4 separate regions of the Homo sapiens genome follow, and all the other regions are linked to region 2. Evidence: fine-mapped expression QTL. A gene starts in region 2. Each other region holds a variant in brackets. All regions are shown on one strand. Distances are between the middles of the regions.

Region 1 (7,961 bases), 840 kb after region 2:
GGATCACTTGAGGCCAGGAGTTTGAGACCAGCCTGGCCAACATGGTGAAACCCTGTCTCTACTAAAAGTACAAAATGGAGCTGGGCATTATGGCAGGCACCTGTAATCCCAGCTACCTGAGAGGCTGAGGCAGAAGAATAAATGGAATCCAGGAGATGGATGTTGCAGTGAGCTGAGATTGCACCACTACACTCCAGCCTGGGTGACAAAGCAAGATTCTGTGTCAAAACAAAACAAAACAAAAAAGGAGGGACTCAGAGAGCCAGAGACCAGGGAAGGACATGAAGCAGTGTTCGGAGGACAGAGAGAGAGAAGAATGGGGAGGGGAAGGAGCGGCACATGGGGTTGAGCAGAGGAGAAAATCAGAAAGATGGCTTAGAGAAGCCAGCAGTCTGCGAGTCTGGGGAGGATGGAGAGTGGTTTGGGGTTTTGGGTCGGGGTCTAAGGTGATCAGATGCAGAAGCATTACACGGTGGCCTGGTTTCTTTACTCAGCCCCTGGGGTAGATCCCAGCCCCCCATGTAGGTCCCTTGGCTGGAAAAGGAAGAGGGAGTGGTCAGATGAATCTGCGGAGGAGCCGGAGAAGGAGCTCGCCCCTGAACCTGAGGAGACCTGGGTAGTGGAGATGCTGTGTGGGCTCAAGATGAAGCTGAAGCAACAGCGAGTGTCACCCATCCTCCCTGAGCACCACAAGGGCTTCAACAGTCAGCTTGGTAGGAGGACACCCCAGAGAGCACCTCCAATCCTGTTCTTTCTAAAAAGAGGAAACTTCCAATAACCACACTTTTCCAATGGGAAAGATACGCCCCCCGTGGGTGAGCTCTCCACGCAGGAGGACTCAGAAGTGATCACTCATGAGGGACACTTAGGAGACGATAGAGGACTAGGCTAGACTTGATAAAGGTTGGCGCTTGGGATGAGAAAGCTTGGTTTCGGGCCAGGTGCAGTGGCTCACGCCTGAGATCCTAGCACGTTGGGAGGCTGAGGCAAGAGGATTGCTTGAACTCAGGACTTTGAGGCTGCAGTGAGCTATGACTGCACCACTGCACTCCAGCCTGGGTGACACAGCAAAACCCTGTGTCAAAAGAAAAACGAAGGCCGGGTGTGGTAGCTCATGCCTGTAATCCCATTACTTTGGGAGGCTAAGATGGGTGGATCACTTGAGGTCAGTTGTTCGAGACCAACCAGACCAATATAGCGAAACCTCATTTATACTAACAATACAAAAATTAGCCAGGCATGCCTGTTATCCCAGCTACTCGGGAGGCTGAGACAGGATAATTGCTTGAACCCAGGTGGAAGAGGTTGCTTTGAGCCAAGATAGCGCCACTGCATTTTTTTGAGACGCTGTGTCAAAAAAAAAAAAAAAAAAAGAAGGAAGGAAGGGCCCAGAAGTCAGGAAGGAGCACGTGAGGAGGGTGTGTGGGAAGAATGGAGGTACTGAGGCAGGGTGCACTGGCTCACACCTGTAATCCCAGCACTTTGGGAGGCCAGGCAGGCAGATCACTTGAGGCCAGGAGTTGGAGACCAGCCTGGCCAACATGGTGAAACCCTGTCTCTTCTAGAAGCACAAAAATGAGCTGGGCGTTCTGGTGGGCACCTGTAATCCCAGCTACTTGGGAGGCTTAGGCAGGAGAATCACTGGAACCCAGGAGGCGGAGGTTGCAGTGAGCCAAGATCGCACCACTACACTCCAGCCTAGGCCACAAAGCAAGACTGTTTCTCAACAACAACAACAACAACAAAAAAAAAAAAAAAAAAAAGGGACTCAGAGAGCCAGGGACCAGGGAAGGATATGAGGAAGTGTTCTGAGGACAGAGAAACGGGAGAATGGGGAGGAGAAGGAGCAGCACATGGAGCTCAGCAGAGGAGACAGACAGAAGGAAAGATGGCTTGGAGAAGCCAGCAGTCTGCGAGGCTGGGGAGGATGGAGAGTGGTTTGGGGTTTTGGGTTGGGCTCTAGTGTGATCAACTGCAGAAGCATTACACCATGGCCTGGTTTCTTTACTCAGCCCCTGGGGTAGATCCCAGCCCCCCGCATAGGTCCTTTTGCTGGAAAAGGAAGATGGAGTGGTGGGACGAATCTGAGGAGTCGTTGGAGGAGGAGCCACGGAAGGTGCTCGCCCCTGAGCCTGAGGAGATCTGGGTGGCGGAGATGCTGTGTGGCCTCAAGATGAAGCTGAAGCGACGGCGAGTGTCGCTCGTGCTCCCTGAGCACCACGAGGCCTTCAACAGGCTGCTTGGTAGGAGGACACCCCAGAGAGCACCTCCAATCCTGTTCTTTCCAAAAACAGGAAACTTCCAATAACCACACTTTTCCAATGGGAAAAATATGCCCCAGTGGGTGAGCTCTCCATGTGGGAGGAATGTGAAGTGATCACTCATGAGGGACACTTAGGAGATGATAAAGGATTAGGTCAACTTGATAAAGGTCAGCGCTTGGGATAAGAAAGCTTGGTTTCGGGCCAGGTGCAGTGGCTCCTGCCTGAGATCCCAGCATGTTGGGAGGCTGAGGCAAGAGGATTGCTTGAACTCAGGACTTTGAGGCTGCAGTGAGCTATGACTACACCACTGCACTCCAGCCTGGGTGACAGAGCAAAACACTGTCTCAAAAGAAAAACCAAGGCTGGGCACAGTAGCTCATGCATGTAATCCCAGCTACTCGGGAGGCTGAGACAGGAGAATCGCTTAAACCCGGGAGGCAGAGGTTGCAGCGAGCCAAGATCAGGCCACTGCATTCCAGCCTGGCCCACAGAGCAAGACTCTGTCTCAAAATAAATTAATAAATAAATAAAAATAAAAATCAAATAAAGAAAAACAAAATCAATAAACAAAGAAAGTGGTTTCAGCTGTGCCCTCTGAAACTTAATGTCTCTTACTGACTTTTCTAAACCTAAGTGTTTCCATCCATAGTGAGGGATACCAAGGCCATGGTCACACCCTGATGTGACTGTCTCATGAGGAAATGATGGGAATTCCTTTATGACTCTGCAGTGGTCCCTCCGTGTCTGCTGGAGGGGGTCCTGGTTGATTCCCAGCTCTACATCCTGTAGATTCTCACACCCAGGGCCTCCTTCGGCCTCTTCTCAGGGGAGTCTCAGAGCAGGAGCCTCTCTCCCTTGCCCAGTGAAAGTCATTCTCCCCTCTCCCATCCACCTCACCCGCGGCCACAATCCTGAGACTTCCCCCCGGGAGGCACACTTCTCCTCGCTGCCCTGCTGCTCCCACGGAAACCCTGTCCTGCTTCTCACACTGACATCTGCTCTCTAATCACAGAGGATCCTGTCATTAAAAGATTCCTGGCCTGGGACAAAGATCTGAGGGTGTCGGACAAGGTAAGGTTGTTCTCCATGTAACTGTTCCTGTTCCAACGCATGGCTCGGGGGAGGGCGCAGCTTCCAAACCCACAGTTCTCCCTCCACCACCTCCCACCAGATGCTCCTACAGTCTTTTTTTTTTTTTTTTTTTTTTTTTTTTTTGTGAGACAGAATCTTGCTCTGTTGCCCATGCTGGAGGGCAGTGTCTCAATCTTGACTCACTGCAGCCGATGCCTCCCGGGTTCAAGCGATTCTTCTGCCTCAGCCTCCAAGCAGCTGGGATTACAGACATGAACCACCA[C/T]GCCTGGCTAATTTTTGTGTTTTTAGTAGAAACGGGGTTTTGCCATGTTGGCCAGGTTGGTCCTGAACACCTGACCTCAGGCGATCCACCTGCCTTGGCCTCCCAAAGTGCTGAGATTATAGACGTCAGCCACTGTGCCCGACCAGCTCCCATGGTCTTGAGTCTTGGCACCCACAAATTTTTTTTTTGTGAGACAGAGTCTAGCTCTGCTCCCCAGGATGGAGTGCAGTGGCATGATCATAGCTCATTGCAGCCTCTAATTCCTGGGCTCAAGCAATCTTCTTTCCTCAGCCTCCTGAGGAGCTGGGACTAGGCACATGCCACCATGCTCAACTAATTTTTGAAATGTTTGTAGAAACAGGGTCTCACTATGTTGCCCAGGTTGTTCTAGAACTGTTGGGCTCACATGATCCTCCTGTCTCCACCTCTCAAAAAGTACTGGGATCACAGGCTTGAGCCGCCACTCCCGGCTATTCTTGGTCTTTTTATGATTTGTCAGCATCTCCCTCAGGATTCTGCTGGTCTCTTGCAGAGTGAATGAGTGGCCCCTGCCTCTCCTATGGGTCCTTTGGGATCTGAGCTCTGGGCCACAGTCTGGCCGCAGCCCTGAAGCTCCTGGCCCCTCTACTCTCAGCTCTTCAGGACAGTTCTCTGCCTGGCACACAAAAGACCCTCCTTACACCAGCCGACCTAGACACACCCCCTCCAAAGATCCCATCGGAGCCCACCATCCTGGGAGCATCACCCAAAACCCTTCCTCTGGCTTCTCGGATTTGCATCCGACCTTCGAATACCCCTCCATCCCGCAATTTCCAAATGAGTACAGTCACCCCAACACTGAGGTCCCTTCTCTGATGGGCAGCCCCTCCCCAGACCCTCATTCCCCCTCTCCACAATCTTCCTCTTCCAAGATGTGACCTCTCCCTCTCTGTGTTCCTTTCTCTCCATCAGTATCTCCTGGCTATGGTCATAGCGTATTTCAGCCGGGCCGGCTTCCCCTCCTGGCAATACCAACGCATTCATTTCTTCCTGGCTCTGTGAGTGGTTTGCTGCCTCCTATCCATCAATATCCAATGCCCTGGGACAGCGGGGGAAGTGGGATTCCAGCCTTTCATTTATTCTTTCACCTATTTGTCCTCTTTACTCTGTGTACAAAAAAGAGAGGATTATACTATCATAGACTGTTGTTTCTAAACAGAAACTCAGGCTGGGCACAGTGGCATACGCCTGTAATCCCAGCACTTTGGGAGGCCGAGGCAGGCGGATCACCTGAGGTCAGCAGTTCGAGACCAGCCTGGCCAACATGGCCAAACCCCGTCTCTACGAAAAATAGAAAAATTAGCTGGGCGTGGTGGTGTGCATCTGTAATCCCAGCTACTCGAGAGGCTGAGGCAAGAGAACCCTTTGAACCCAGGAGGTGGAGGTTGCAGTAAGCTAAGGTCGAGCCACCGCACTCCAGCCTGGGTGACAGAGTGAGACTTTTTCTCAAAAAAAAAAAAAAAAAAAAAAAAAAAGCCAAAAAAACAAACTCCAATGCCAGTGTACAAATAAAAGAATAAAACAAAAGGAACCATAAACCGCTCCTAAGGGGAAAAGAAAAGGAGTGGAGGAGCGGACATGCCGCTTCCTCCAGCAAGCAGACGTTTCTGGTTCTTCTCTCTCTCTCCTTCCCACATCAACCACAAACGCCATCGACCTCCTCTGGGTTCCCATGACAGAGGCCACAGTTCAGGTCCCCCTCGCATCACTCGAATCCACTGTCAAATGCTCCCTGCTGGGGTCTCCTGGAGTCTCTCCCCAAGCCAGGGGGCTTCCTAGTGCAGCCTGAACATCTTTCCAAAGCACGACAACCTCACTGCCCACCTGAACAACTTCCTTAGCTGATGCCTTTCTCTATCGAGGCCAGGGTCCACAGTGTCAATTCTACAATCTCTACAAGCACACTGGCTCGCCATCTTGGTATTTCCTGGCTCGGCTTCACTGCTTCTTCCAAATGCCCTCCACTCGACTTTGTGTTTGTGTTTTCTGTCTGGGTGTCCCGCACACATGTGGCTCTGAAGGGAAGGACCCATTCCTTGAAGTCAGTTCACCCCACAGCCTCTGTGATGCCTTCCCTCATCTTCCAACTTCTGCATGCCCGTAGCTCTCTAGTTACATCCTGGACACTGGGATTAGGTCATCTGCCTTGATTACTCCCAGTCCCATTAGACTAGATGCCTGTAGAAGGCAGGGTCCTGGCAAAATATCAATGTATTCAATTTCTTTTATTTTTTTGAGACAGACTTCCCCTGTCCCCCAAGCTGGAGTGCAGTGGTGAGATCATAGCTCATCGCAGCCTCCATATCCTGGGCTCAAGCGATCCTCCCACCTCAGCTTCTTTATTAGCTCCGACTACAGGGCTGTGCCACCACACCTGGACTGTTTGTTTGTTTGTTTGTTTGATTATTGAGATAGAGTCTTGCTCTGCCTCTCAGGCTGGAATGGAGTGGCCCAATCTCAACTCACTGCAACCTCCGCCTCCTGGGTTCACACAATTCTTATGCTTCAGCCTCCTGAGTAGCTAGGCCTAACGGGTGTGCCACCGCACCAGGCTGATTTTTGTATTTTTAGTAGAGATGGGGTTTCTCCGTGTTGACCAGGCTGGTCTCCAACTCCTGGTCTCAAGCGATCCACCTGCTTCATTCTTCTAAAGTGCTGGGATTACAGGCATGAGCCACCGCGTCTGGCATATTTCTTATATTTTTAATAGAGACGAGGGTCTTGCTATGTTGCCCAGGCCCGTCTCAAACTCCTGGCCTCAAGTGATCCTCCTGCTTTGGCCTCCCAGTGTGCTGGGATTCCAGGCATAAGCCACCACTCTCGGCCACCAGTTGGGTTTTTGTCTCCATCCTGAAGGAGTGGGAGACGCCCTTGATCAGGTCTCTGTCCAGCAGAGCCCTCCTGAGGAAGGCGTGGCTCTCTGCAGGGTGGGTGCCAGTCCTGAGCTAGGGACGGTCCCTTACCTTCCTCTCTGGGAAGCTGACCTCAGCCGGAGGCCTCTCTTGGTGGTGCCCCTGAGCAGCAACCTGATTTCTGTCCTCAGCTACCTGGCCAATGACATGGAGGAGGACGACGAGGACTCCAAACAAAACATCTTCCACTTCCTGTATGGGAAGAACCGCTCTCGCATACCCTTGCTCCGTAAGCGTTGGTTCCAGTTAGGCCGTTCCATGAACCCGAGGGCCAGGAAGAAGCGCTCTCGCATACCCTTGCTCCGTAAGCGTCGGTTCCAGTTAGGCCGTTCCATGAACCCGAGGGCCAGGAAGAACCGCTCTCGCATACCCTTGCTCCGTAAGCGTCGGTTCCAGTTAGGCCGTTCCATGAACCTGAGGGCCAGGAAGAACCGCTCTCAGATAGTCCTGTTCCAGAAACGTCGGTTCCAGTTCTTCTGTTCCATGAGCGGCAGGGCTTGGGTTTCCCCGGAGGAGTTGGAGGAGGTAGGTGGGGCCTGGGGAGGTGGAGGAGGTGGGGAGGAATCGGGTGGGCTGGAGGCTGGATGAGGGGAGAGAGGGGTATCCTGGCGAGTCCCCGTCTTCTCAAAGGGCGTTTGTTTTTCCAGATCCAGGCTTATGACCCAGAGCACTGGGTGTGGGCGCGAGATCGCGCTCACCTTTCCTAGAGCTCCAGGGACCGTGGAGGCCTGAGGTCATCGGCCTGAGAGAAGGTACATCTGCATCCTCCGGGGTAAAGGCAGAATATTGGGGTCTATTTCGGAAATCCGAAGAACCCAATTGCTTGATCCGGCTTCAAGCCTGGGCAACGTGGCGAGATCCCCTCTCCACAAAAATACAAAAATTAGCCAGGCGATGTGGGAGGCATCTCTACTCCCAACTACTCAGGAGGCTGAGGCGGGAGGATCGCTGGAGCCTGGAAGGTCGGGGCTGCACGGAGCCCTGATCCTGCCACTGCACTCCAGCCCGGGCGACAGAGTGAGACCCTGCCTCAAAAATAATCATAAATACTGAGTTGGGGGAGGTTCATTATGATTGATGCACTTGAGTTACCGATTTGGGTCGAGGGTTCAGTGAAGCTTTGGTTTACATCTTGTGCAGCTAACCACGGTGAGCACAGAGCATAAGACTTCATCATGAGGAGGTAGGATTAAGGATTAGGCTTCTGGACTCGTGGTTCGTGATGTTGTCACATTAGAAACACATCTAGCATGGTTACAAGTCTGGATCTTAAGAGACACAAAAGGCCCCAGCTGTGATGAAGTCCAAAGCCACATTCTCTGAGGGTGCCCTACTCCCTGGGCAGACCCACCCAAAGTCCTTGCTATGAAGCAGATCACTGGGGCTGACCTT
Region 2 (7,961 bases):
TGAAGCCAGGAGTTTGGAACCAGCCCGGTCAACATAGCAAGACTCCATCTCTACCAAAAAAAAAATGATATAACAGAGTCACCAAAAGAGTATTCAGTTTGGATTCAAAAAAACATCTTTAAAAAGAGCATATGATCCCAACAACAGAGATCTCAACAAAGTGGCATAACCACCGTTCTGTCACCGTGGGCTTTCAGGGGTTCCTATGCAGGGTCCCATGATCACGTGCTATTTCTTTTTTCTTTTCTTTTCTTTTTTGTTTTGAGATGGAGTCTCGCTCTGTCTCCCAGGTTGGAGTGCAGTGGCGCGATATCGGCTCACTACAACCTCCGCCTCCCGGGTTCAAGCAGTTCTCTGCCTCAGCCTCCCGAGTAGCTGGCATTACAGGCGCCTGCCACCACGCCCGGCTAATTTTTTGTATTTTTAGTAGAGACAGGTTTCACCATCTTGAGACGGAGTCTCGCTCTTTTGCCCAGACTGGAGTGCAATGGCGCGATCTCAGCTCACTGCAACCTCTGCCTCCCCGGTTCAAGCGATTCTACTGCCTCAGCCTCCCGAGTAGCTGGGATTACAGGCACATGCCACCATGCTCGGCTAATTTTTTTTGTATTTTTAGTATCGATGGGGTTTCACCATGTTGGCCAGGCTGGTCTCAAACTCCTGACCTCGTGATCCTCCCACTTCGGCCTCCCAAACTGCTGGGATTACAGGCATGAGCCACCGCGCCAATCACATGCTATTTCAAAGCAGTCAACGAAGCTCTAAGCCCAGAGTCTAAGCGAAGATGCATCTGAGTTGGTGGAAGTGCTCACGTGGGGTCCAGATCCATCTCTAGCTTGGCCAAGGCCCATTTGACCTGGCTTTGTTTCCCACCAAACAGAAGAATGGAAAAGTCACATCATATGGACGCTTATCTGAAGACTAAGCTAAACATTAACAAAAAGAGAGGGGGAAATAATTGAAATAACATGGATGGTTCTGCCAGCTGTTGGACTCTGTACTTATGTCCTGACTGACCATGAGCTGAGAGCCGCAAATCTGCTCTTGCTGAAGCCCCAATCCAGTCTGCATCTCTTGGTATATGCATCCTGTGATTCTAGTATTTTTTTTTTTTTTTTTGAGACGGAGTTTCGCTCTTGTTGTCCATGCTGGAGTGCAATGGCATGATCTCGGCTCACAACAACCTTTCCCTCCCAGGTTCAAGCGATTCTCCTGCCTCAGCCTCCTGAGTAGCTGGGATTACAGGCATGCGCCACCACGCCCGGCTAATTTTATATTTTTAGAAGAGATGTGGTTTCTCCATGTTGCTGAGGCTGGTCTCGAACTCCTAACCTCAGGTGATCTGCCTGCCTCGGCCTTCTAAAGTGCTGGGATTACAGGCATGAGCCACTGTGCCCAGCCCGATTCTAGTCTTTAAAGGAGGATTTCCTGGCTGGGTGCAGTGGTTTACGCCTGTAATCTCAGCACCTTGGGGGGCTGAGGCAGGCAGATCACTTGAGGTCAGGAATTTGAGACCAGACAGACCAACATGGTGAAACCCTGTCTCTACTAAAAATCCAAAAATTAGCCGGGCATGGTGGTGCATACCTGTAATCCCAGCTACTCGGGAGGCTGAGGCAGCAGAATCGCTTGAGCCCAGGAGTTGGAGGTTGCAGTGAGCCAAGATCGCACCATGCACTCCAGCCTGGGCACCGGAGTAAGACCCCGTCCCCTCCCAAAAAAATCAATAAATAAAATAAAGGAGGACTTCCTACTACATCATTTTTAGACACAAATCAACTATTATTTTTCTTCTGTTGCCCAATCCCCAAAACAGTAATCTGATCCTACATTTGAAAAAAAACCTGGGCCCAGTGCAGTGCCTCATGCCTGTAATCGCAGCACTTTGGAGGCCACGGCAGGAGGCTTATTTGAGCCCAAGAAGTCAAGACCAGCCTGGGCAACATAGTGAGACCCGTCTCTACAAAAAACGAAATTAGCTGGGTGTGGTGGCACATACATGTTGTCCCAGGCATTTGGGAGGCTAAGGTGGGAGGATGGCTTGAATCTGGAGTTGGAGGCTGCAGTGAGCTGTGATCGAACCACTGCAGTGCAGCCTGGGTGATACAGTAAGACCCTGTCTCAAAAACAGGAAAAAAAAAAAGTAAAACAAAACCCCAGCTTTGCAGAGAGATAGTATCCAAAGTGATTTATAACAATGGCCACAATTAATGTAGTATCTATGCCACTAAGATGAAGGAGAAATTGGTTGACAAGTGTTCCAACAAGCCGCAGTGAGCCAGACCTTAATGAAGACAGAACACGCAAGATCTTTATGACTGTAACACATGAATTTGAGGGTTACAAACCTTAATGGCAAAATGCTCAGAAAAACGCTTTGTCTGCATACACATTGCCTCAACAGAGACAGCTTTCTGACTAGAGGTAATTCAAAACCAGCTCATGTTGACCTAACCGTTTTAGGAATTGCTTCAGTCTCAAAGAAGTTGGAGTTGTTTATGAAGAGGCAGCAAAATTCCACTGTGGGCCCGGTGCGGTGCTCACGCCTGTAATCTCAGCACTTTGGGAGGCTGAGGAAGGCAGATCACTTGAGGTCAGGAGTTCGAGAACAGTCTGGGCAACATGTTTAGTAGAAACCCGTCTCTACTAAAAATACAAAAATTAGCTGGGCGTGGTAGTGCACGCCTATAATCCTAGCTACTCAGGAAGCTGAGGCAGGAGAATCACTTGAACCCGGGAGGTAGACGTTGCCGTGAGCCGAGATCGCGCCACTGCACTCCAGCGTGGGTGACGGAGCGAGGCTCGGTCTCAAAAAAAAAATTCCACTGTGAACCACTAAACAAATTCATAGAAGAAAGGAACTACCTTCCAAACGTTTTCACGATGATAAGAGTCATCTTGGCTAAATAAACTTCTGCCTTGCTAACTCACTTTGTAACATCCCCCCAAATTCTACTCCACGACTCCACTATACCCAGGAAATCCTTTCCCTGACCCCTCCAGGTGGAGAAACCACTCTCTCAACAAAAGATACTCACTGAAGTCCACAGCAGCTGAAATCTGCATCTCGTAGGCTGGCTGCTCTTACTAGAGTGAGTTATAGGCTTCTCAAGAGTTAAATTTGTTCCTAAATATATGCCAGTGGCACGTGGTATTGGGAATAGAGAATTTAATTAAATATTACTAAATGTCAATGAAATACAAGTGCAAAAAGAAAGTTGCTCTTGTGCAAACTTAATGAATGACTTTCGAGACAATCGACAAAGGAGAGTCACAATCTTATTAGGCAAGGACCGAAGGGATCCTAGACATTGTCCGGGAAATCGCAAAAATTCAGGCTTCTGTAATCAGATTGCTTCTCCGGTGAGCTTTACGCTCTCCATGTATTTTTCAAAAAAAATCCAACATGAAAATTCTAGAGGAGGCTTTATTGGGTGCGGTCTGTGCAAGAGAGACGATGGGGAATGCCAATCGGAGAACCCAGATTGAAAGGAAAGGTTTTTGGAACCCACATCAAAAGACTGGCTGCTCGGAAAGTTTTCTCGCTAGCGACAAAGGCTTGGAGGCTGGAAAAAGCGTCGTGGTCGCCACCTACCGAGAAGCGGCGGGTGGGGGGAGGATGGCCGTCGTGGCCCGAATCCCCAGTGGGTGGTACTGGGTGGGGGGGCGGGCGGGAATCAAAAAACCACTCAATCTCGTGCTTTACATAAACATCTAAAAATCGTCGGCCTCGGGGTTGTAAAGTTTTGGAGTTTAACTTAGGTGAACAGTAATGTCTCTCCATTTTCAAAACCCACCGGCTAATTCAAGTTGAGAAGCAAAAAATAGTGGTAGGGGGAGGAGTTTGAGTTAAATCGCATCGCGGTTGACAGAACAAAACAGGAGCTACGAGTCAGGATTTCTGCTCCCACTCCCTTGCAAGTTTCCTTCCAAATCCTGAGGGAGAGATAGAGGCGGAGGGTCTGGGGGAGGAATTAAAACACAAGGTCTCCTCCCCTCTCGCCTGTCCGAACTTGGGGGCAACGGTCTCTTTGGAGGCCAGCTTGGAAAACACTAGAGAGGAGTTCTTTGTGTCCTGGAGGGTGGTGCAAGGCGGAAGGACTCCCCTTTTGCAGAGCAAGGAGGGCGACGGCCCAGCCCGGGGCTCCCCGGCTTTTGCAGCTTCCCTGCCTCGCAATTTGCAAGGAATGTGGGGTGCAAGAGCAAGTGGCGGACTTGGACGGCGGCTGGCGCTCGGTGGGGACGACGCCGGAGCCACCACCCGTCCAGATTTCCGTTTCTGCACCCCGGCTCCCCTCCCCCACCCGGGCGGCCGCGCAGGCCCCAGGTGCAGCCATGTTCTCGCTCCCACCACCCTCGCCTCCATTGACAGCCCTTGCTGGAGAGGGCCGGGCGCCGCGCTTGCCTCGTCCTCGGGTTCGGGGCTAGCCGGCGCGGTGCTTCCTGGGAGTTGTAGTCCACGACCGCCGCCGCCGCGTTGACGGGGAACGCATCCGAAACTACAACTCCCGCTGGGCGGCGCTGCGGATGCGCAGGCGCAACGCGCCTTCGAGGAACAAAAAAAAAAAAAAAAAAAAAAAAAAAGAAAAAAAAGAAAAAAAAAAGGAGGAGGAGGAGGAGGGTGAGAGAGAAGCTGGGAGAGCAGAGAAAAGGGGCCACCGGTCGCCCCCCCGCTTCCCCGCACGCGCTCTCCAGCCGCGGCCGCCCGCCTGCCGCGGTCACCCCGGCCTCTGCCTCTGTCCCCCAGTGATCGGATCAAGGCGCTGAGCGAGGCCCTGCCTGCGGGGCGGCCATGCGGCGGTGACAGGAGCGCGACCGACACGCACGGGCCCCTCGCCCCCTCTCGCCTCCCGTCCGCTCGCCAGCTCCCCTCAGCCGAGGCTGCTCCGCGGCGGCCGCAGCCCGCGCGCGGCCCACACTCGCCTCCCCTCGGCACCCCCGGCCCCGGAGCTGCCTGGAGGCGGCCGCACTCGGGTGAGTCCCTCTCGCCTCATCCCCGCGCCCCCCGCCCCCGCCTCGGGGGCCATTGCGAGCGGGGGCCTTTATTAGAGACTTTGCCCCGCCGGGGCCTGCAGGGACAGGGGCCTGGGAGCCGCGGCCCGCCGCGCGCGGTGTGGGGCCTTGGGGGGCGCCCGTGCCGCCTCCCCCTACCCCCACCCCCACCGCCTCGCCGGGTCTCGAGCCCCGCCGGCCTTGGCAGTGGCCGAAACGAGGCGATGGGGGTGGGGCGGCACGGACGCGGTCGCGGGGGACGACAGTGGCACGCGCGCGCCTCAGTGCGCGTGGGGGAGGGGCGCGCGCGCCGACCGGCGTGCGGTGGGGGGGCGCCTCGCGCGTGCGATCCCGCGCGCGAGCGAGCGAGCGGCCCTGCGGGCTGCGCATGCCCCGCCGCGCTGATTGGCCGGCTAGGCGGTGCGGGGGCGCGCGCGGTGCCAGGCCCGAGCCGTCGTGGGGTCGCGCTCGCCTGGTGTATCTGGGGCTCCTGCGCCGGGGCAGCAGACGCGCGGGATTGGCCAACCGGCGCGGGGGCGGGGCCGCGCGTTGCCTGGTAACTGCGGCGGGCGGGGGAGCGGGAGCGCTGTCCCCCGCCCCGCCCCGCTCCCAGGTGGAGTCCGCAGTGGGCTTTGTCCCGGGCCGGCCCGGCGCGCCTGCCCCGCGGGGCCTGTTCTTTGGGGGAAATAAACACAATGACCGGAAGGAAAACTTCAGCTTTAGGCCATGAAAATTAAGCCGTCTGGGTTCAGCCAGCACCCAGACGACGGGAGTGCAGAGGAAGAAGGAAAATGAAATGGAAAAAGCTGTCTCCTTCCCGCTCCCCGACTTCTCCACTTTTTCTTAATCCAGCTTTTGCTTTTTCGTGTAGCGAATTTTGTCCTCCCTAGGTTATGGATTTGCGCTGATTTGCGGCTGGGGATGTTCACAGGTGGGGTGCTGTTGGAGTAGTGTCCACTCTTGGCGATGCGCAGCTCTTGCTGACTACTGACCTCCTTTTTTTAAAAAAAATTATTTGTGGAGATGCGTTCTCACTTTGTTGCCCAGGCTGGTCTTGAACTCCTAGGCTCAAGCGATCCTCCCACCTTGGCCCCCCATAGTGCTGGGATTACAGGTGTGAGCCATCGCTTTCGGCTTAATTTTCTTTTTTTTTTTTAGAAACAGGGTCTCTCTGTGTTGCCCTGGCTGAAGCGCAGAGTGGCACAATCATAGCACATTGCAGCCTCCAACACCTGGGCTCCAGCGATCCTCCTGCCTCAGCCTCCTCAGTGGCTGGGACTACAGGCGCATGCCATCATGCCCTGCTAATTTTTTTTTTTTTGAGATGGAGTCTCACTCTGTGGCCCAGGCTGAAGTGCACTGGTGTGATCTCGGCTCACTGCAACCTCTGCCTCCCGGGTTCAAGCCGTTCTCCTGCCTCAGCCTCCTGAGTAGCTGGGATTACAGGCGTGCCCACCACGCCCGGCTAATTTTTGTATTTTTAGTAGAGATGGCGTTTCACCATGTTGGCCAGGCTGGTCTCCAACTCTTGAATCAAGCTGAAAGCAATCGGCCCGCCTCGGCCTGCCACCAAAGTGCTGGGATTACAGGCGTGAGCCACCGCCCTGGGTCACGCCTGGCTAATTTAAAATTTTTTTTTAGAGATGGGGTCTTCTTGTGTTGCCTAGGCTGGTCGGGAACTCCTGGACTCTGGTGATCCTCCCGTTTAGGCCTCCCAAAGTGGTGGGAGTACAGGCTTGAGCCACCACGCTGGGCCTCATCTCTTTTAAATTCAACTTTGCCGCAGACAATGGCTTGATCAGCCAACAGTGCAGAGGAGAAGTCTCCAGTCCTTCAGGGAACAAAAGGGGAAGTTAGTTTGCAAATGAGAACGTGCAGGTAGAGTGCCCTGCGGAGGCGGGGTCTTCTCCCCAGGCTGAGGCCTGTGGTGTGGGATGACCGATTTTATTTCCTGCTACAGGATTTTTCTGTGGCTGCTACCTTGGCTTTCGTTTCTCCTCCTCCTTGAGATCTTGGTCTTTTGGCTGGAATGACATTTTTCAGCCTATGGAAATCTTTCTTGCTCATATGCAGCCACTTCCTTAAGGTCTTCTCTTTTTTTTTTTTTTTTGCTGCTGTTGTTGAGAGGGTTTCGTTCTATCCCCCCAGGCTGGAGTGCAGTGGCGCGATCTTCGCTCACTGCAACCTCCACCTCCCGGGTTCAAGCGATTTTCCTGCCTCAGTCTCCCCCGAGTAGCTGGGATTACAGGCGCCTGCCCCCAAGCCCCGCTAATATTTGTATTTTTAATAGAGACGGTGTTTCGCCATGTTTGTCAGGCTGGTCTTGAACTCCTGACTTCAGGTGATCCGCCTGCCTCGGTCTCCGAAAGTGCTGGGATTACAGGCGTGAGCCACCGCTCCCGGCCTGTGGTCTTCTCTTATATTGCATAGTCAGAGTTTGTTCCTTCTTAGTCTCCCAATCAACTTGTGTGCCCTTCCTCGCAGGGCACCTTTATTTTCTCTCTTTTTTTTCCTTTTCCTTTTTCTTTTCTTTTCTTTTTTTTTTTTTTTCGGAAGCGGAGTTTCGCTCTCGTTGCCCAGGCTGGAGTGCAGTGGCGCGATCTCGGCTCACTGCAACCTCCGCCTCCCGGGTTCAAGCGATTCTCCTGCTTCAGACTCCTGAGTAGCTGGGATTACAGGAGCGCTCCACCACGCCCGGCTAAGGGCACTTTTACTTTCCTCTGCATCTGGCCTAGTCACTGGGTGTTGAGCTCGTAGGGGCAGGGACAAGAAGCCTTTTCCTCCTATGTCTTTCTCCCTCCACTTCCCCCTCCAGTTTGGCATCGTCCTCGTGCCTTGCCGGTGGTAGCAATGCTGCTTACATTTGAGTGTCTTCCGTGCCCCCTCCATGGCTCTTGAGCGCTTTGGATGTACAGTATTTTTCTTATTTAATCTTTGTGACAAGTCTGTAATTCTATTCTATAGAGCGG
Region 3 (6,284 bases), 60 kb after region 2:
AAATTGACTGTATACTTGTTCACAGTCTTAATAAATTCTCTGAACATACTGAAATTAAATTATTAATAGAAAACATACACAGTGGGAATCCTAGGAAACATGCTTGTAATTGACTTAATGAGGGCCTCATTAAAAATATTTAGACCAGAATATTGAGAATGCCACATAGTTAAACTTGTGAAGAGCAACTAAAGCAGTACTTAGAGGTCAATTAGTAGCCTTCACTAAGGTTGCATTTTTAAATCCTGTAAATAGCACATCTTCCTTTTCTTGAGCTCTGTATATTTTACTCAGAGTCAGAAGACTAGGAAGCAGTGGATCTAGCATTTGAATTTAGGAGTCTACATTCCAAGACTTGCTCTTCTTTGAGATTCCAAATAGAAACTATTTCTTTATTTCTCATGCAATTGATTTTTTTCTCTGATGTGTCCTTTGCCTGTAATGTGTAGTGTGGTGCATCTTTGTGAAATTTCTTAGGCTTTAGAGAATGAAGCCTTTCAAACAACTTCGGATGTTTTCCCAATTCTCTTCAGAGATAGTTAACTGAACTGTGGTCATATTAATGCCAAAATGTGTTTTATATTAAATAGCCATTGAAAACACAATGTTTTGTTTTCTATTTTAAAACTATTATTATTTTAATCATTAAAAAGTTTGATGATAACATGTAAATGTGTTGTCAAAATATAGCAGTTTGTGAAGTTGAATTTAACTCAGAGTACTTTCTGTGTTTTGGAAAGAACCTTATTAGAAAAAGTGCCCGCTGTGCTGGAAGAAAGGGAGAATGAATTAATAGCTGTTAGTTTGTCACATTTCTATTTCAGTAGAGATTCAAGGAGATGGTTTACGTTATTTTAGAGATTCTAAGGAAGGTATATAACATTTGGTTCTGCATTTTTCTTCAGTATGACAAAAGAGTAAGCAAATATTTGCCAAAGAAGAAACAAATAAACCTGTGAGATAAACCTGCATTTGTAATCTGTATGAAGTAAAAGTTACAGTTTACTGTTATGAACATTGTACTGTTTTAAAAAACCCACATCTTCCATTTTAGACATACCATTCCCATTCAATCCATATGTCCAGTCATCTTCAAAATTTCTTTTGACTGTTTACATATGAATTCACCTGATTACATTTTTCCATTCACCAAGACCATAAATTGACATTGCTCATCTTGTCAGTCTTTTTTTTTTTTAATTTTTTTCTTTTTATTTATAAAAAGGCCATTCCATGTATCTCACCCAAATTTGTTGACTAAAGTCACCCCACATTTTTTTTTGGGGGGGATTACTTTTGAAGTATTATCTTTGTATCCCAAAGCAGGCCCTTCTGAAACTGATGATGTTGATGAAAAACAGCCCCTATCGAAGCCTTTGCAAGGTATAATCTTTTCACTTCCATTCTCCCACATACTGCTTGTGTTTAATGTTTCCTTATATTGCACAGACTGTGTTTTAATATTTATAAGTACAGTATTACTTTTCTAAATGGAAAAGGAAAAAAATGTATTGGCCTTTTTTTAACATATAAATGAACTTCACAAGCAACAATTTTTCAAAAATCAATTTTCCCTTTTGTGAATCTAGTAATGAATCTCGAAATGGGTACATGACACACTTTCCTATTGAAGGTAAAGTACACATTTATACCTTATCTCAGAACAGTCAGAAGCCAGGTTACTGTTTTATTGGTTAGTGATGCAAATATTGATAAGGTCAGGTTGATACTTAGTATTTAGAAGAATTCTGAAATAGCACTTGTTAATCTGTAAGTTTCGAATTGATTGCCTTTTTGGCAATTTTTTACAGTGTTCCCAAACTTGATACTCATAGGCTATTAGTAATGGCATTTACTTCTATCTATTCTGGCTTTGAGTGCATAAGATGTATTTTCTTTAGGCTTAGCATATAATGTAAATGTAATTGTTTATTTCAGATTTTAAAAGACATACAGAATTATTGCTTACACGAACAATCATCTTAACTGTTATTCTTTGCTGAAATTTTACTTTTTACCTACTGGCCTCATCATTTCACTCTCATTCCTTTGACCTCACATCTCTTTTTTCTTTGACTTTTACAGTCAAATAACTTAATGCTCCATAAATTCAAATATTAAGATTAAAAAAAGAGAAAGGAAGTGTGTAGAGAAAGCATATTTTAAAAATGAATTAAAGAGTGACTCATAGGTATAGGTTTGTAGATTTACCTAGAGTTTGAGTTCAGGTGAGTTTTCACAATATAAAGTAAGTGGAAAAGAATCCCCAGATAATTGTGACATGCTAAAGCTAGATACTGAGAACCAAAAAGATGTGACCTCAGTATGGGACTTTTAATTCAAGGATATTAGCTACCAAATGACAGTTTTTCAGACCGTAAGCATTGCTTTTTAAAAATCAAGATAAAATACATTTATAACATATCTTACTTTTAGTATAGCTTCTGAATTTAGTTCTCAATAGATAAGACAAAAGAGATGAACATCTGCTTCCTTTCCCCTCAAGCGATGTATTCTTACTAATAGGTAATATGTTTTTTTTTGGTACTTAAAGGCAGTGTTTTTCAATCTTTTCCATGTTAGTAGCTCAGATCTTTAAGGACAGAGGATACAAATTAGGGGGCAGCTTGCGTTCTTAATCCTAAGTGGCTCTCTGATGTCTTAGATTCTTCCTTTCCTTTTTGTGAGTAAAACTTCTGCTCTAGTAGGATGAGCCTGTTCACCTTGTGACTGCCTAACTGATCATTGCTTTATGTTCCAGTTTTTAGAAGCAGGCAGATTATATTACCTGACTTAAAATGCTTTTGAGACTAAAGGTAGTATCTTAAATTTTAACTTACGAGTTTCCTTTAAGTACAACTTTGATGAAATTATGGGGATTGAGTTTCCATGGCTTTCACCATAGTGAAAATGGAAAGCATGAAACATTCCACAGCAAACCCTGAACTTATTTATAGGGAGTTAATTAAGTGTCTGATCACAGCAAGCATTTACTCTGATCTGTTTGTGTATGTGTGTCTTTGACAGATGAGCATGGTACTTGAAGCATAATTCTGCTTCCTCAGATTCCAATATCTAGTAATTTTATCATGTAGTTATAGTAACTAATATTAAATCCCCAAACCTACTTAGGTCTACTCTGTATTTGTGTTTTCAAATAATTTTTTTAGCTTCCAAATAGAAGCGTTGTATTCTTTTCTGAATTAGAAAACATTGTTCGACTTAACTGCTAAAGAGTTAGACAATCATTTTGCATATGTTTATTATGTCTTAGATTGTTTGCATTGTTACCTAGATTCTCTTTCATCTTTCAATGTCAGTTTTTATTGGTTTATTATATGTTGTTTATTTTCTTTTTAGGAAGCCACCATTCTTCAGAGGGCAATGAAGGCACAGAAATGGAAGTACCAGCAGAAGGTTAGGAGAAAAAGAGATTGCATATTTTCCACTATTTGTTGTATGTTTATTCTATTTTATAGATTCTATTATCCTTAAAACACCTTATTTGGAAATAAAAGGTGATTCCCTTGGTATGCCTTCCTAGCCAACAGGTTATTATTTTTTTAAAAATTCTAAGATGTAATATACTTCTTTGACCATACTGATTAATAAAGCCTATGGGAATGAAACTAAGTGGTAAGTAAAGCTCTTACATGATGCAAAATGCTACTTTTTTTTTTGTCCTGGTTTTCTTGTGCCATATTAAATATCTTTTAAGGAAGAATAGCTTCAGTGTTTCAGAATTAAAATTACTAGCTCCATTCATATTTTATTTTCAAATGTATTTTTTAATACT[T/TC]CTAGTCTCTTAGTAGGGTAGGAATTTAGTCTACATAAAATTTATACAGGAGAGAGTTTCTCCCTTTATTTTGTACTCACAACTACTCCATAAATGACTTTGTCAGTTTACCAGCTCTACAGCTTTGGTTTTAGAATTGAACGCCTGACTGAGGTACAGTTCTTTTTGTTTAGAATCCTGAGTTCAACTTATCATGTAGGGTGGCTTCTTATTTCCAAGGTGTTTAAACGGTTCCACACAAATTTTTGTAGATTTCTCCCAAGGAAAATGACTGGTAAGGTAACTGAATCTTGTTTTAGAATTATTTCTCTCATAAATTGGTCATGTTATCCCTTATTTTTCTAGAATGAAAAGAGGAGTCTGTTGTGTAACTGCTTATATTCCATTGTATTTACATTTTTATTTTAATTAAAAAAAAACATTTGTTTGATCTTTTACCTTCTTTGAGGGAAAGGCAATCTTAAAAGTTCCCCAGTATAGGCTGGTTTCTCCAAATTCAATTATAGAATTAGGGTTTCTCCCTGGAATACATTTCTCTCAAAAATACTGATATGCTCATTGTAAACCGTTGGTTACATTTCCCTGTCAGCCCTTTTTATAGAAGATTGTGTGGGTGAATGTTGTATGCTTTACTGTGTGGAGGTGGGTATCTTCTGAGTGACAGAGTTTTCAGCTTTGAATAGGCGGGATTTAGAACAACAAGACCTAGGTAATAGATCATGTGCAGTACGAGGGCTCATTGGGCAGTACCGATGGCTCACCGCCTTGCAGCCCCGCCGGCAGGTACTGCACCTTGAAGACTGCGTTTTTAGGACATTTTTACTGTCATATTCCAGTGTTAACAAAGTTGAATCGAATCTGGGTTCTGGCCTTTATTCCTTTACTAACAAGTAAACATAATCTTTGGCAAATCAATTAATCTCTCAACCTTTGCACAATGAAAGAGAACTAATGAAAATACTCTATAAGCTTCTAGCACTAACACTCTGATGTACATTTGTCTTGTGTAGGAACAAATATGAATGAACTTTGTAATTTTTGAAATATGTTGCATACAAAGCCAGAGGATATAGTCTTGTGTGCACTTGTGACACTCAGTCTCTTGATAGGAAAGTCTCCATTGTAAAGCCTGGGTTGTGGTTTTATTGAACAGTAGAAACCACTCCTCACATTTCTGAAAGGAGAGAAGAAATTCTAACCAAAGTAGAAAGCATTTGTTTCTATCCGAGCATCTTCTAGCTGTGGCAGGAAATTCATTGTGACTTTGTCATATCCTCATTCCTCCAAGACTATGGGATTTTTTTGAGTCAATTTCTGCAGGTAACATGTTATCATCTAAATTTTTCCAGAGTTTTTCTAATTTTTGTTTTCTTTTATCCCTATTTATAATGACAAGGGTCAAATTTTAATTTCATTAATATGAAATGAATGAAAATGCCAGTGGATTTTTATAGTAGGCTGCTTTTGGAGTATCAAATCAGTAAAATGTTGGAACATATGGAAACATGCTTAATAATGAATGTCATTTTAGAATTTTATTTTTTTCAAGATTCTACTCAACATGTCCCTTCAGAAACAAGTGAGGACCCTGAAGTTGAGGTGACTATTGAAGGTTAGTTATCTAAAAGCCTTGATTCCAAAGTTTACTTCTGGTCATAAAAATACTTGTCACATTCACATTGCTAAATATGCATTTCATTCATTTTTAAAGGAGACTTGTGGGACGAATACATGTGTCTGTGTGGCCAAAGCAGCCCACTCCCCAGTGCTTTGGGAGTTTTAGATGACAGAATGAGGCCGTGAGAATTAGCATTGGCCCACGGGTGGCCCAAGCTATCCTTGCTATCAGTGGGAGTTGAAAAGAGAAAAAGAAAATTATGACCAGACTTGATACACACAAAAACAGATTCTATAATCTATTGGGTTGTGATAGAAGAAGACTTATTTGGAGCTGGAATCCCTAATTTCTAATTAAGTAAAGTGGAGGAGAAAGTGTTGATAGTTTAGTGAGTAATTTTTAAAGCAAGTCCCTGCCCCCTTCAACGACCCGCAAATACTACTTAGAGGCTGACATACAATTTATCTTTCAAAACTGTTTTGAAGCAATAGCTACAAATATATTCTACAATACTCTCTATAGCTAAGATTGCTTCAAACCTGTTTTTTTCTCCAAAGATAAGCTTGAACTCAGCTGAGCCAGTTTATCCTGAATTATTTGAAAATTCAGCTAATAGAATTATTAACTATCACTTCATATTAATAGTTATTAAATGAGCATTGCGTTTTTCCTTTTAAATTAATGTCTCACAGCTGGGCACGGTGGCTCACACCTGTAATCCCAGCACTTTGGGAGGCCAAGGTAGGCAGATCACCTGAGGTCGGGAGCTCAAGACCAGCCTGACCAGCATGGTGAAACGCCCATCTCTACTAAAAATACAAAACTAGCTGGGTGTGGTGGTGCATGCCTGTAATCCCAGCCACTTGGGAG
Region 4 (7,961 bases), 830 kb after region 2:
GTGGCGGGTACTTGAAGAGATAATGATAAAAATGTTCCCCAAGTGATGACACCATAAACCCAAGATCCAAGAAGTTCAATGATCCCCAAAACAGAAACATGAAAAAAATGATACCATGACATATTGCAATCAAATTGTCCAAAACTAGTGATAAAAAGTTTAAAACAATAAGGGGGGAAGAAAAAAAGACATGTTATATATAGGGGAACAAACATGAGTATGAGATCAGATTTCTCTTAGAAAAAAATGTAAGCAGGAAGACAACAGAGAAACATATTTAAAGCACTGTGGAGAAAAATCCAGCAAAAACACCTTTAAAAGCAAAGACACAATGAAGACATTTGCAGACATATAATAATTCATCATCAACTAGAAGAAATGTTACAGAAAGTCCTTCAGGCAGAAGTAAAATGACAGCAAATAAAAATTTAGATTTACACAAAGGAATGAAGAGTACCAGAAATGGTAACTGTGTATTTTCTCTCATTACTTAAATCTCTTTAAAAGATACCTGGGCCAAGTGTGGTGGCTCACACCTGTAATCCCAGCACTTTGGGCGGCTGAGGCAGATGGGTGACCTGAGGTCAGGAGTTCGAGACCAGCCTGGCCAACATGGCGAAACCTCGTCTCTACTAAAAATACAAAAATTAGCCGGGCGTGATGGTGGGTGTCTGTAATCCCAGCTACCCAGGAGGCTGAGGCAGGAGAATCACTTGAACCCAGGAGGCAGAGGTTGCAGTGGGCCAAGATAGCACCCCTGCACTCCAGCCTGGGGGACAGAGTGAGACTCTGTCTCTAAATAAATAAATAAATAAATAAATAAATAAATAAATACAGTTTAATTAACAACAACGTAATAGATAGTGTGTGGCACTGATACCACCTGTAAAAATAAAATGAACAACGGTGTAAAGACCAAGAGGAGAGAAATGGAAGTGTCCTATTGTAAGCTTCTCTTATTCTAGGAAAAATGGATATTACTTAAGAATAAACTATGACAATTAAAGTTGCATACTATAAATTCTAACTCACTAAAATAACAAAACAGTGTGATAGCTAAAAACCCAACAAAAGACATAAAGTAGAATCATAAAAAATTCTCAACTAATCAAAAGGAAGGAAGACAAACAGAGACATTTTAAAAAGAAACAAAGAAGATGAGACTAAAAGAAAGCAAAGACAACGGACTATAACCTAACTCGTTTTATCAATAATCACATTACATGTAAACGGTTTATACATCCCCAATTATGAGACAGAAATAGACTGATGAAAACAAGCAAGATCCAAATTTTGCTGCCTGTAAGAAATAATACTTTAGATATAAAGATGCAAATAGGTTAAAAGTAAAAGGATGGAATAAGATATACCATGCATGTATTACTCAAAAGAATGCTACATAAATAACAAAGTACATTTCACAGCCTGGAATATTAGCAGGGATAAGGAAGGCCATTTTACAAAGTGGTTAATTAATCAACAGGACGTAATAACCTTGAACATTTATGTATCTAATATAACACATAAAGCAAAAAGTGGTAAAATTGCAAAGAGAAACAGAACCACAACTGCAGCAGATTTCAATCCCCTCTCCCCCACAATTGATACAAGTGGGCACACAATCAACAAGGATATAGTACACCTGAACAACACAACCAACCAACTTGATCTCATTAACATTTATCAATCACTCCACCCAACCAGAGCAGAACAAGCCATCTTCTCAGGCATGCACAGAATTTTCCCAAGACAGATCCTGTTCTGAGCCATAAATTTAAGAGGTTCCATGTAGCATTCCAGACAAAAATTCACAGTCTAAATCTAATCATGAAGAAAGATCAGGGAAACCTAAATTTAAAGACTTCTATAAAATCATTGGCCTGTATTCTTCAAATGTTATAATGGCACTGTGGAACAAATCCGTATTAAACAGACTTAAAAAGCATGAAAACTAAAGGCAATTAACAGTCCTAGACTGAATCTTCTACCAAAAATTAAAAATTGCTATAAAGGAAATTATTGGGAAATTGGCAAAACTGGAAAATGAACTATAGTTTAGATAAAAGTATTAAATCAATGATAAATTTCCTGAATTCAATTACTGTGCTATGGATATTTAATATAATATTCTTGATTTTATGAGCTGTAATCTAAAACTTTATAGGGTAAAGAGGCATGACACGTTATACCCACTCTCAAATAGTTCAAAAAATATATATATATATATAAATATATATATATACACATACGTATATAGGCATATAAATGATTAATGTGGGAAAATGTTAAGAATGAAGTATCTGAACAAAAGGAAGTATCTGGGATTTCTTTGTAAAATCCTTGCAATTTTTCTGAAAATCTGAAATGATTTCAAAATAAAATGCTAAATAGAAAATAATGCTATCAAATATATATGTATATATTTGCTATCAAACATATATTATATGTATATATTTGCTATCATATATATCAAATATATTTCAAAAGGACTCAGAAACCAACTTAAAGGGATTCCGTCTGGCCAAAGATGGAACCACTTAATTTTCAAAAAGAATCACAACTTCTATGTACTGAAATATTTACTATCTGTTTAAACCCATGAGCTCATGATGGTAACAAAACAAAATACCCTCCTGCTTAAAAGCCTACTCAATATTTTAGAAACTGTCTTTCCTGCATGAATTACATAAACAAATAGAGAATAGAAATTTATCTTTAGAAAAGTATTCTAGGCCAGCCGTGGTGGCTCATGCCTATAATCCCAACACTGGGAGGTTAAAGAAGAGGATCACTTGAGCCCAGTTCAAGACCAGCCTGGGCAACATAGAGAAACCTGTCTCTACTAAAAATTAAAAAATCAGCTGGGCATTGTGGCATATGACTATACTCCCAGCTACTTGGGAGGCTGAAGTGGGAGGATCACTTGAGCACAGGAGTTTGAGGCTGCAGTGAGCCATAAACGTGCCAGCCTAGGCGACAGAGTGAGACTCTGTCTCCAAAAAAAGAAAAGAAAAGTATTTTGGCTAGTAAATAAAGAAGAAATGGTAGAATTAGCAGATCACCATTTTGCCTCCCCTAATGAAGGCAAATCACAGCAATAGTAAATCACAGCAATAATCAAGTCAATAGTTCTTAACTTCACAAAAACAAAGAAGGTAACACGTGCCTCCAGAAGTAGACAAATGCCACGTATGGTATAGTTGTGTGAAAAGAACTGAACATAAACCTGATTAGACTTCCAGATCAAACTACCAATTTTACCAAGGCATACAAGATATTTTTAAAAAATGTGCTAAAGGTGAAACAAGGGTAACATAATCCAAACTGAGGATAACCAACCCAGTTTCTTCAAAACAATGAGCACGCAGGAGACATACTATGGGAACTATTAAAAGATTTAACCCAACTGCCACATGTATTAAGAAAGACAGTATTATGGGTTATTCCTAGCCCCTTTTAAAAAGATTCCTTATTGGTCAGGTGTGGTGGCTTACACCTGTAATCCTACCACTTTGGGAGGCTAAAGTGAAAGGACTGCTTGAGGCCAGGAGTTTGAGACCAGCCTGAGCAATACAGTGAGAATACATTTCTAGGCCGGGAGCAGTGGCTCACGCCTATAATCCTAGCACTTTGGGACACCGAGGCGGGCAGACTGCCTGAGCTCAGGAGTTCGACATGCATGACACGGTGAAAGCCAGTCTCTACTAAAATACAAAAAAAATTAGCGAGGTGTGGCAGCGTGCACCTGTAGTCCCAGCTAGGCGGGAGGCTGAGGCAAGAGGATCGTGTGGGCCCGGGAGATTGAGGTTGCAGTGAGTTGTGATCACGTCTCTACACTCCAACCTGGGTGACAGAGCAAGACCCTATCTCAAAAAAAGAAAAAAAGAAACAAAACAAAACAGACTTCACCATTTAAAGACAAACAAATACTTACAGATGAATCTTTTTAAAAGCCAAGAAAAGAGAGACTCCATGGAGAAAATATCAGTTTGGAAGTAACGGATGTCAAAGGCAGACAAAGGGTACTGTGAGGAAGGGGCTAGGAAATGCCCACTGGATTTGACTGCAATTAAATCACTGGTCACCTTTACTGACTGACTTAGCAAAGTGAAAAGGACAAAACGAAAACACGGAGAAGTGAAATGAGAAACAGAAATGAGGAAATCTTCACAAGAGAGTAACTGTTTGTATTGTTTGCTGTGCAACCCGAACAAAAAGACGAACAAATATTTGACGGATGATCACGTCATTCATTCCCCCCATGATCTAGGACTCAACAGTAAAAACAGAATTGTTTACTTGGATCAC[G/A]ATATTTCCGTCCCTGGAAAAATTATATGCACCAAGTTCTCCTTGGGCAGCAGGCCCTCTGCTTACATAAGCACCAAGAATAAGCCATAAGTTACAGTAATTTAATGGTTGTTGTTAGGAAAGCTATCCACAATTATATCAACTTGAATGAAGAAATTTTTCCAAGTCCCAGAAAATCTTTTAAGTCCACAAGTAACAAAACTGGTTTCTCCTTATAATCAATGCAAACGATGTCATGGATGGTGATATGGTTTCGGTGTGTGTCGCCTCCCAAATCTCATGTTCAATTGTAATCCCCAATGTTCCCTCTTCCTCCTGCTCTGGTGATGGAAGATGCACCCACTTTCCCTTCACCTTTCACTTGACTGTAAGTTTCCTGAGGACTCCTCAGCCACGCTTCCTATGATAGAGCCTGCAGACGTGAGCCAATTAAACCTCTTTTCTTTATAAATTACCCAGTCTTGGTTATTTCTCTATAGCAGTGTGAGAATGGACTAATACAGATGGCATTTTCCTTTTGTGATGACTGCCAAGAGTATCAGTCCTAGGTGCGGCTCAATTTCAACAGCCTTAAAATATACTACCCATACATACAAGCTTCACAAATCATTTTTGGTGCTGATCTGCCACACTAACTATATTTTACAGGATAATGTCTATTTCCACATTCCCATTTTAAAGTATGAATCCTGGCTGGGCTCGGTGGCTCATGCCTGTAATCCCAGCACTTTGGGAGGCTGAGGCGGGAGGATCACCTGAGGTCAGGAGTTTGAGACCAACCTGGCCAACATAGTGAAACCCCATCTCTTCTAAAAATACAAAAAATTAGCTGGGCATGGTGGCCCACGCCTGTAATCCCTGCTACTCAGGAGGCTGAGGCAGGAGAATCACTTGAACCCAGGAGGTGGAGGTTGCAGTGAAGCGAGATCATGCCACTGCACTGCAGCCTGGGCAACAGAGCAAGACTCCATCTCAAAAAAAAGAAAAAAAAAAGTATGAATCCTTACAAACCTCTTAAAATGCATCATAAAATAAAGTTGAGGAACATATACACAAGCAGGAAAACTCACCTGCAATGTGTTCATTTTCTGCTGCTCTTGGAAACATGCAGAGACTGTGGCTGATAGACCTAGAGGGGCAGAAGCAGGTCACTGAAGTCATGAGGGCTCCGGCCTGCAAAGGCAGAAATCACCTGCATAAGAACCGCAAAAGAAAGCTCAATAGGCTAACACCCTGTGAACACTCAACCTGCAAACACTCAGAAGGGTCTAAAAGAGTGATACAGGGTTTCACCATGTTGGCCAGGCTGGTCTCAAATTCTGGCCTCAAGTGATCCGCCTGCCTGGGCCAACATGGCAAAACCCCGTCTCTACTTAAAAATAACAAAAAAAATTAGCCAGGCATAGAGTCACATGCCTGTAGTCCCAGCTACTCAGGAGGCTGAGGCACGAGAATCCTTTGAACCTGGGAGGTGGAAGTTGCAGTGAGCCGAGACCACGCTGTTGCATTCCAGACTGGGTGAGAGACACTGTCTCAAAAAAAAAAAAAAAAAAAAAAAGAGTGATAGGGGAAGCATGCGCCTGTAACTCTAAGATAATCAGGTAGTAATTAGATGAGTTAGACTCTCATGGGTAACATGACTCCTTTTACAAATAGTCTGCCATCATCATCAAATACAAGGCGCAAAAAGAAAAAAAATTCCCATTATACGGCTCATGTTTTTTGTGGTTTGTTGGTTGAGACAGGGTCTCAATCTGCCACCCAGGCTGGAGTGCAGTGGTGCATTCACGGCTCTCTGCAGCCTCGACCTCCTGGGCTCCATCCATCCTCCCACTTCAGCCTCCTGAGTAGCTGGGACCACAGATGCATCCCAGCATGCCTGGCGACTTTTGTATTTTTTGTAGTCAGGGTGTCCCCATGTTGTCTAGGCTGGTCTCTAACTCCTGGTCTCAAGGGATACTCTTGCCCTAGCCCCGCAAAATGCTCGGATTACAGGTGTGAGCCACTGCATCCCGCCCGCATTTTCTTATTGTCTCTTTAAACTGCTTAAAATAAAATAAGCCATAGGAATTGAGTATGTGAGCTCTCAGAAATGAAATGAATGTGTATAAAATATGGTTTTGTTTCTAAATTATCTAACTGAACTTGGTTATTGCTGCACCTAATAATCTTCTATTAAGAAAACTAGGATACGGGAGAAAGAACACTGGCCTGGGAGATAAGTCTCCTGGGTTCTACTATGAGCAGCTCTACCCACAAAGCCGGTGACCTGGTCAAGTCACCCACCTAAGGCCCAGTCTCTTCCCCTAGCAACTGAGGCAGCAGCAGAGAATCCCTGCAGACTGTTCCTGCATTACTACGATTCTCCCAGGGCAGGTCTAAGGGGGGGGATCAGCAGACACTTAAGTGAGAGAATAGAAGTGCTGACGGACGTTTAGAGGCGGTCGAAATCTGGAGCACGGAGAGGAGGAGGAAGGACTGTTAGGGGTTAGCGGGGAGTGGAGACGACGTCCGCAGCTGAGGGTGGTGACACCCTCCACGCCTCCGTAAGCCTCGTCCTCCCAGATCTTCCCATGCAGCACCTGTTCGGTGCAGCCGGACCCTGCCCTCAAACCCAACACATGTCTCTCCGGCAAGCAATCGGGACCCTCCCTCTGCCCCACACTCAAAGGTCCCCAACACAAGGTGACTTCACCCAGGCCCTTCTCGCTCCGGGCCCAAAAACCCAAGACTTACCCTCCTGGGGCTCCGCAGCCTCTGCCCCACGGCTCCCGAGAGGCCGGGGCGGGCTGCTGTCGCTGGCGCGCGCGTCTGCTCGCGAGGTCCCCTCCTGTCCACCTCACCAAGGCTGTTCTGCTCCCGAGGGGCCCGGGCCGGGCCTACGGGGCAAATCCAGGCGGGTGTCCTTCTCGGGGCCCAGATCCGCCTCCCTGGGGCTCCCGGCCCCTCTGGCCCCAGCGCCGCCGGCTCCGGGGTTCACGCTCGGGGGTCCCAGCTCGAGCCTCTACCCGGCCCGCGCGAACCCTGGGCCGCACAGCTCCCGCCCGCCTAGGTGCTGGTCCGGGCGGTCAGCATCCAGCCCCGCAGACTCGGTGATTCTCGTCCACTAGAAGCCAAAGCCTGGGAACGAGAGCAAGCGATGACCTGAAGAGGCACAGGAAGCGAGGGCAGTGCGGAGGTGGCGCGCATGTGCGAACACGCACGCAGGGAGAGGTGCACAAGCGCAGGAGTGCACCGGAAGTCCGCCTCCCGGGACACCCACCGCGGGTCCCAGGACAAGTAACGGACTCTATTTCCCAGGAGCCTACGCGCTCCCCCAGTTTTGGGGCCGTCTTAAATGTCTCTACCCTGCCTAAAGGTTAAGAAGCTCCAGGCTATGAGCTTTGGCAGCCCTGAACCCCGGACTGAACTTCACCTTTGTCTTTACTCCCTTTTAGGGTCAAATCCAGGGCTCCGTTACTGGGTCCTGGAGCCCAAGTCCTCTGGGTTAGAACGGAGTTTCCCATAAGGAGAAGGAAAGGAAAGGGTGTATCATGGTCACTGCTCTGAAATGCTGAGAAGTTTCACTCAAATACTGGGACAGGATAAATGCCCAGCGATGCTTTCCAAGGAACAAAAAGAAAATAGAATTTGTAGCTGGGCGCAGTGGCTCA

Evidence for each region. PIP is the estimated chance that this variant, and not a neighbour inherited with it, causes the effect. A credible set is the group of variants that fine-mapping cannot tell apart.
Region 1: its variant is the best candidate, but not a certain one, in a credible set for the expression of GTF2I in whole blood (GTEx, PIP 0.60).
Region 3: its variant is the best candidate, but not a certain one, in a credible set for the expression of GTF2I in whole blood (Lepik 2017, PIP 0.63).
Region 4: its variant is the best candidate, but not a certain one, in a credible set for the expression of GTF2I in substantia nigra (GTEx, PIP 0.85).

Annotation. Positions count from the first base shown.
Region 1 is chr7:75,494,662-75,502,622 of GRCh38, forward strand. SPDYE5 (speedy/RINGO cell cycle regulator family member E5) reads left to right here. Exons shown (of 9, transcript NM_001306141.4): 3 at 495-713; 4 at 2,013-2,243; 5 at 3,277-3,335; 6 at 4,570-4,655; 7 at 6,701-7,094; 8 at 7,217-7,321. The coding sequence ends at 7,276. Among named protein-coding and RNA genes, the nearest start is that of SPDYE5, 6.3 kb to the left of the region's middle. The variant C/T (reference allele first, on the strand shown) is at 3,619.
Region 2 is chr7:74,653,095-74,661,055 of GRCh38, forward strand. GTF2I (general transcription factor IIi) reads left to right here and starts at 4,624. Exons shown (of 35, transcript NM_032999.4): 1 at 4,624-4,974. RefSeq lists silencers at 4,174-4,333, 4,704-4,883, 4,904-5,193, 5,264-5,783 and enhancers at 4,414-4,533, 4,554-4,603, 6,554-6,783, 7,054-7,193.
Region 3 is chr7:74,713,534-74,719,817 of GRCh38, forward strand. GTF2I (general transcription factor IIi) reads left to right here. Exons shown (of 35, transcript NM_032999.4): 10 at 1,324-1,383; 11 at 3,361-3,417; 12 at 5,346-5,408. All of the region lies in intron 2 of GTF2I-AS1 (GTF2I antisense RNA 1), which reads right to left. Among named protein-coding and RNA genes, the nearest start is that of GTF2I-AS1, 12 kb to the right of the region's middle. The variant T/TC (reference allele first, on the strand shown) is at 3,797.
Region 4 is chr7:75,478,820-75,486,780 of GRCh38, forward strand. It overlaps POM121C (POM121 transmembrane nucleoporin C), which reads right to left and starts at 7,480. Exons shown (of 15, transcript NM_001099415.3): 1 at 7,045-7,480. RefSeq lists enhancers at 6,788-6,867, 7,205-7,704 and silencers at 7,148-7,217, 7,238-7,387. The variant G/A (reference allele first, on the strand shown) is at 4,309.